Homo sapiens: one gene and its partner. The protein of the gene in region 1 interacts with the protein of each later gene in a pairwise test. Each region holds a gene or a part of one and is shown in the gene's direction. Other genes may lie near its edges.

Evidence for each region.
Region 2: the proteins of SHISA6 (region 1) and ANKS1A interact in a two-hybrid assay, tested with the Homo sapiens proteins (one large-scale study listed by BioGRID).

The regions. Positions count from the first base shown.
Region 1 is NC_000017.11:11,261,435-11,265,248, forward strand, and holds part of SHISA6 (protein shisa-6 isoform 1 precursor), read left to right. Parts: intron 1-1,931; coding exon 1,932-2,092; intron 2,093-3,814. UniProt on the Homo sapiens protein: Involved in maintenance of high-frequency synaptic transmission at hippocampal CA3-CA1 synapses.
Region 2 is NC_000006.12:35,084,521-35,088,334, forward strand, and holds part of ANKS1A (ankyrin repeat and SAM domain-containing protein 1A), read left to right. Parts: intron 1-1,245; coding exon 1,246-1,416; intron 1,417-2,431; coding exon 2,432-2,529; coding exon of another isoform or gene 2,530-2,551; exon of another isoform or gene 2,552-3,814. UniProt on the Homo sapiens protein: Regulator of different signaling pathways. Regulates EPHA8 receptor tyrosine kinase signaling to control cell migration and neurite retraction.

The DNA.
Region 1 (3,814 bases):
TCCCAGAAGATACATCGCATAGCGCAAGCTGCTTTCTTCTTTTCTCACATGACCTAGAGACAGCCCCTGGTAACCACAGTTCTGCTTTCTGTCTTTACGGATTTACCTAACTGGGTATGTTACAGAAGCATGGTCTTTTATGGTGTGCTTCTTTCACTTAGCATGATGTTTTCAAGGTCCATCCATGTGATAGCAGGTATCAGTATGCCTTTTTTAAATGACTGAATAATATTCCATTGTGTGAATAGACCACATTTTGTTTTTCCTTTCAGCAGTTGATGGACTTTTGGGTTGTATCTACCCTTTGGCTGTTATTAATACTGCTGCTATGAACCTTTGTACACAAGTTTAATGCAACATATATTTTTCATTGTTCTTGGGAATACCTAGGAGTAGATTTGCTGGGCCATATGTTAATTCTGCGTTTAAGGAACATTGCAGTTTTGAGGAGCTGCTAAACTGTTTACCAAAGGGATTGCAGGGTTTTCCATTTCCACCAGTAGTGTATGAAGGCTCCAATTTCTCTACCTCCTTGCCAATACTTGGTATTATGTGGCTTTTTGGTTATAGCTATCCTAGTGTGTATGAAAAGGTATCTCAGTGTGATTTACAGTTTTGGGACTAATATCTAGGTATATAATCCATTTTGAGTTAGTTTTTTATATGGTGTGAGGTAAGGATCCAACTCCCTTCTTTTTCATGTGGCGATCCAGTCAGTTGTCCCAGGACCATTTTGTGAAGAAACTATTCTTTCCCCCACAATTTACTCAGATGCATTTTTAAACTGCTGCAGTTGTCACTTTTCATGGGGGCAGAGTGTTGGAGCTGGACTCCTGGTAAGAGGGAAGCCTTGGGGTGGGCAGGGCCCCACCCATCAGAGACACCCCTCGAGAAGATGGAATAGTCTTTGCCTGGCATGTGCAAAACGGGAGTGCATTGAGGACTGGGGACCTGGATCTGAAGTGACAGTATCCAGGTGTAGTTTCTTGTGGCTGTCCACACTCATCTGTTTCCCACTGCCAGTGGGTATCTCACATGTCACACCCACAGAGGGCATCCTGTTTGAAAGCAAATAGGAGAGCGATTCCCCCTAAATTATGAACCCCTAGATGGCAGGAATTGGGTCCCATTGATCTGTGTCTCTTCAATGACTGATGCATGCTGAATCGTCAGTCAATGCATGTTTGGTTGTTGAAGCTAGGCGCTGAGTTAACAAAAGCTGCTTTCTCTGAGTAACTGGACCTCTTGCAGGGGGGCGGGTCTCTCCTGCTATGGCAGAGTCTCTGCCTGTCTCTCTTTCTTCCTGTGTATTTTTCCCCTGTGTTTGTGATTGCTCCCTCCTCTAAACTCCAGTTGTCTTCAATGTCTGCACCATCCACGTGTTTTGATTTTTATCTTTTCATCTCTATGTCCTGTCTTTGCAGCTCAATCACACCCTTCCTTGATAGCAGGAGCTGTGTGTTGTACTTATTTGGGTCTCCAGTATCTAGTACATGATACTCAGTGTGTAGTTTTGGATGATGAAGTGGTCCCCTGATATTAGTGACCTGCTGCTGAATTTGAGGCCGATGGTTTCAGCCCTTCACCATAGTGGCATTCCACTGGCCAGCTGCTATAGATACCTGCCTGGCATAGGTGGATATTTGGGGAGCCAGTATTTTGAAAGGGCTCAGAGTTTACTGATGTGAAATAAATTAAAGAAAGAAACCGTAGTCCCAGCCTTTTAGTCTGTACCTCCAGGCATGGTAACCTTTACCCTGTGTCCCCCCTGAGACCAACACCAGATGTAGCTGACTATTGAGAGCTGAATGCTGTCTCTGTCTCTTCCTGCATCTCTGTAAATCAAAGGGCATATGAAAGTAAGCCAACTCCCCTCATGGTTGTGCACACCTGCTCAGTGAATCTCATTATGTGATCTCCTCCTTGTTTAGGGCTCTGGCTGACATCTTAAGACAACAGGGACCAATCCCCATAGCACACTGTGAAAGAGAAACTATCTCGGCTATCGATACCTCTCCCAAAGAGAACACGCCGGTCAGATCGTCCTCCAAAAACCACTACACTCCTGTGCGTACGGCCAAGCAGACTCCAGGTAAGTAACAGCTGGGCACCTTGATTCTTTGCTGAGGCTGGTGAGAGGTTTCAGGATGTTTCTGCTCTGGTGGGGCAGGTTGTGGACCATGATGGTGTGATGAGGGACTCTCATGGACAGGCAGGCTGGCAAAAGATTTTTGGGACTCTCTCCCTGGGGTGAGTTTGGAATGGGCAAGACTGCTGCCGGTCAGTGTCTGGGCTGGATGAGGACTGACAATTTCAGGCACTTGTGACCTAGTGAGTGGTTGGTATAATTCTCTTACCGGAAAAGGAGCTTGCAGCATCCATAGCAGGGTATGGCCATCCATTCGCCCACGTGGTGGGAAACTTTAGGCTGAGTAGGATGCTAGATATGTGACAAGAAATTACTGTACCCCAATGTAGAGCCTGCTCAACTATTGGGATCTCAAAGAGCTCCTTCCTGAGGGTGAGAATTAACATCTGTATTTTTGAGTGACCTTTTCCTGTGCTCTGTAGATTCCCTGGATGTATGATGAGTTGCCATAAAATAACAATATGCCTTTTACTTTTTGTACTTATCATAGCTATAACTGTGAAGAAAATGGCAGGGCTTATTTTCCTTGTCTTACGGGTCAATATATGCAGCTCAAAGAAATTTAGTAACTTGAACAAGGTCACTGAGATGTTAATAATAATTTAAAAATCAGTAATAACAGTAATATAACCTAAATATTTATTGGAATCTTGTTCTGTGCCAAGAGTCATGCTGAGCCTTTTACATATATTTTCTTATTTATTCTCCACAGCAATCTTAGAAGTACTTATATTATCCCCATTTTGTGTGAGGAATGGAAAGGTTAAGTAACTTTCCCAAGGTCACATGATTAGTAAGAGAGAAAAACAAGATTCAAGCCAAGGCAAATAGTTAACAACAGTAAGAACTAGGAAACCGTAATATCCTTACCCAGTTAAGGGTATGAATCCAAAATATCTGAGTGGACAGTCTCCTTAACAAGTACAGCTTGGGAAGTCATCTCTTGTAGTGAGTGTTTCCAGATAGCCTCTTACTGGTACTAATCCTAGTCCCAGAGAAAGCTTTTACTTTGATGCTTGGATCTGAAATCTGCACATCTATTGCTCAACAGTTTTCAGAGGATGGGCAATGTGATCTGAACTAAACCTGCAATAAGGATATATAGCCACTAGGTGGCAGTGGGTGTGATCAAATCCAAACTATAGCAAAGGTGCTGATGAGACCAAATTTATTTTCCATTCATTCTTTAATTTTCTTAAATTTATTACGTCAGAAACCTAATATTTGCTTTTAAAATAGCATTCTTAAATCTTTTGAGAACCTAATAAAGGCAGATGACACTCCCTCCTGAAAAATACAAATACATATACATATTCATATTCAATCAACAGTTTGTATATGATTGAGGGGAATTAATAGATTCATCCAAAGTTAAAAACCTCTGCTGTAAAGGTAAAGATGAGGGCTCCACCTTTGCAAAATGTCTAAGATGCATTTTCAGCTTTAATACCATAGGTCCTTAAAACAAGCAATAGAAGGAATCTTGGCAAAAACTTCTGGACCAGTGGTCATCTACATGGCAGCGTTTTAGAATCACCTGAGGAGGTCTTAAAATTGCTGATGCCTGGGCTCCACAGAATCACTAGAATTTCTAGGGATGGTGCTGGCATCACATTAGTGTTTTAAACAATCTCCCCAAGGTGATTCTAACATGCGTCTAGTGGT
Region 2 (3,814 bases), on another chromosome or scaffold:
TCTCACTATGTTGCCCAGGCTTGCCTTGCACTCCTGGGTTCAGGCAAGTTACCCACCTCAGCCTCCCACGTAACTGGATAATAGGCGTGAGCCACCGCCCCTGACTTTCCAGCTTTTTGGCGAGTGTTTTCTTAGGTCAGGCAAGGCCTTTGTTTCCCCCGGCTCCCTGCCCTAGGTCTCCAACCTCTGGCTGGGCCGCCTCCCAGAAATGCCCTCTACTTCCCTCTTAGGGGCAGTGGTGCCCTCTTTGGCAGATTTTCTTCCCTCAAATTCCTGCTGAGGCTCGGCTCTGGATGCCACTGGGCCGAGGAGAGTTCATTCTCACACAGCTGCCCACAGGGAGCAGACCAGAACTGACAGCCCACAGGCGGGGGTTCCCTCTAACCTGCAACAAAGCATGAGAGTGGCCCCAGGCTGCTTCCTCACCCCGGGAGGAAGTCAGAGGGGTCCAGGTCTCTGCCGCCCTCAGGGATAGCAGCTGCTTCCAGAATCTCTGTGGCTCCTGGAATACAGGCAGCTCTGGGCATCCCCACACTCCTGGGACCTCATCCACCCCAGTCCTCTGTTTGCTCTGGGCCAGTGAAGGTTAGGAGGAACCAGGCTTTGCTGCTTGCTGGCTGTGTGAGCTTGGAAACATCGCATCTGCCTGCTTCCTCATCTGTCTGGAGGGGATATAATGTGGCCCACCTCAGGGGCCACTGTGAGATGGATGAGGTGGTCCACACAGCACAGTCAGTGGCATTTACCTGTTGCTGACTTTTCCCACATACACTCAGTTCTGCTGTAACGCCACACATACGCTCCTAACAATCACTGTGCTGTGTAAAATCACACAAGGAAAACCACAGGGTTTATGGGGAAATGGAGTTAGGGGCACAGCACTCACAGACTTTGTCGGTGACACATTAAAAATAAAAGCACTAGCACCACTTACATTAAATGGTAAGAAATACCCAAGTACTGCTGCAGGCACGGCACCCTGCCTTGGAAAAGACCTGCCGTAGGCTTACAGCAGTGTGCACCTGCCCTCCCCGCAGCCCAGCTCCCGGCCACATCCTGTGTAGAGCGGGAAGAACAACAGAGACCTAGGAAGAGTAAAGGAGGGAAAGGAGGGAAGAGTGGAAGGAGGTAGGAGCGCTCCCGGGTAGACTTAGAGGGGGACACATGGTCCCTGCGAGGAAGGGCATATCCAGTGTGAAGCGGCTCCTGAACCAGGTGCTTAAGTGGTGATCTGCTTCCTCCCAGAACCTGACCTACGAGATCATCCTGACGCTGGGGCAGGCCTTCGAAGTGGCCTATCAGTTGGCCCTGCAGGCCCAGAAGTCCAGGGCGACGGGCGCCTCTGCAGCTGAGATGATTGAAACAAAATCTTCCAAACCGGTGCCTAAGCCTCGGGTCGGCGTGAGGAAATCCGCAGTACGTGGGCCCCACTGGCCAAGATCCCCCTCTCCCTGGCCCCAGGGATTCAAGGGCTCAGGGTGGTCAGCGTGAGGAGGGTCTTCTGGCACTTCCAGAAAGCTGGCCCTCCAGGGAAATGACCCTCTTAATTGTCCCCCAACCCTGCCAGGTCTCGCCCCTGGAAAGGCAGCAGCTCCTCTGGCCTGGGCGGGCCTCTCATGCTCCTGTTTCCCTCCCTCGCTGGGCTCCCCCAAGGGCAAGGCCGTCAAGGGGCTGCAGAGAGCGGCCTGCAGGCAGCCCCCAGTAACTGCGCCATCCCTGTGTCTGTGTCTGCTTTGCTCTGCACCCCAGGTGCCGCTGCCCCCCGATAGTCGCTGTTGTTACTGTCACACCTGCACCACCCACCGTCCTTCCTACCTACCGCTGCCATCTGTTAGTCCTGGAGTCAAGGTCTTTACGCCTCCTGCTGTCTTGTGTGTCAGTCTCCCCGAAGTGACCGTGAGCGCTCTTAGCCTCTGGCGGCCTCTCCCTCTGCCTGTGTGACATTCTTTCCCCTCTTCCTGAGATGCCCTCTGCCTGTTCTGTGTGTGCTTCAGCCCTCTCTGTTTTTCTGTTGTGTGTCCTCTCTCCAGAGGTCTGGGGTGACTGCTGTGGTCTTGCCTTGGGGTGAGCTCTCTGGGCCTACCAGAGAGACCCGAGGCTGGACATTTGCAAGCCCCATATCCCCTTCCTGCCCAGTGTGAGTGGGTCTGGGGCTTAGAGCAGGAGGCCCGCCTAGGACAGGGGTCCTTTAACTGAGCAATCCCAAGAAATCCCGGAGAGAAGCTGTGCCTGGAGGTGGCCCTCCCCAAGATGCTCCAGGAGGGTGTCCCTCCTCCGCCTGCCCCCAGGGGCCTGCTCTTTGGCCGAGGAGAATAAGGGCTGCCCCTCCCAGCACAGGGGCCACAGCCTGGCCTGGGGGTGGGAGGGGCCTGCTGCCTCCAGCCCTGGCACAGAGCTCCCTCTGACTCTTGACTGCTTCCTTGTTTGGCAGCTGGAACCACCTGATATGGACCAAGATGCCCAATCCCATGCCAGTGTCTCCTGGGTTGTGGACCCCAAACCAGACTCTAAGCGGAGCCTCAGCACCAAGTATGAGACCACTATCTTCTAAAACAACCCACTCCCTGTCTCCACTAGTCTCACTGTGCCTTTGCCATCCGATCTTTCTGCTGTCCTCAACTCTCTCCTTCCAGCTGCTGATGCCAAGGCCCCACCTGCACTGGGACCTGCTCCTCTTGGGCGGGCGGCAGCGTAGACGCTGTACACTTGCAGCTCTCGCACCTACCACCACCGAACACTGTGAATTCTCCCCCTTGGGCTGAGGACAGCTTGAGGGGGTGAGTTGCCTTTGAGGTGGGCATCAAGAGGGCTCAGGGGTTCTGTTGCACCCTGGAAGCCTCCACGGGCAGGCACTGTGAACCCCGACGGGCAGGGCAGTCTCCAGCAGGATCCCAACGGCACTGATAGCTCCCCAGGGTTGGGCTGGGCTCTGTGTGGCTCCCTCCTCCTGTCTGCTGTACTGAGCCACAGCTGGGCACCGTTGCCAAGAGCTAGCTGACTGTTCTCACCTCTCCTGAACCAACCAACCACTGTGACCACCCAGTGCCAGAGTCCCCAGCACTCTGCTCACAGCCGGCCTGCAGCCCCACCCCACTGTCCTCCGCTACTCCGAGGTGCTGGCCTCACTCTCATGGCTAGGCCCTTGTGAGACCTTGAGCTCAGTGATGTGGCTGGACCAGGGACAGACTGCTTTCTGTGAGGGCCCAAGATATGCGCCAGGCCCTTGGGTCCGTGCTGACTGCCCCACTTGGGGCTCTGGGTATCTGAACACTCACAGGCTGGCTCACACAGCAGGTGTCTCAGTCCTGATGGGCCTTCCCCTCCAAGGAGGTGGGTGGCATGTGTGTGGACAGCCCCTCTATCTTCGCCATGGAGTCTCAAGGCCTGGCAGCCTTGGGCCTGGCTCTGGAGTCTAGCTCACTGAGGAGGAAGGCCTTCCGTAGAACCAACGAGGAGGCGGCCTGTGCCCTGCACACACGGCGCACCTTCTTCCCTCACAGAACAGAGCTGCTGGAGGACAGGGACCTGGACCAAGTGGCCTCCATTGTCCTCTGGGAGCTTTCTGACACTCTCCACGGTGGGGGATCACAGATAGACAGCGCCGTCCAGCATGCCCCTGACCACCTCCCTCAGCCTCCTGACTCCTCCGAAAGGAGAGGCCGTCCCATCGCAGCAGCTCAGAAGCTGGGATGGTGGAGCTGAGTCTTTGAAGAGGCACCCCATTCTCCAGTGTGGGCAAATCAGTTTGGATGGCAGGAGACAGGAAGGAAGCGGCGCCCATAGGCAGCCGTGCACACATAGCAGAGTCCACTAG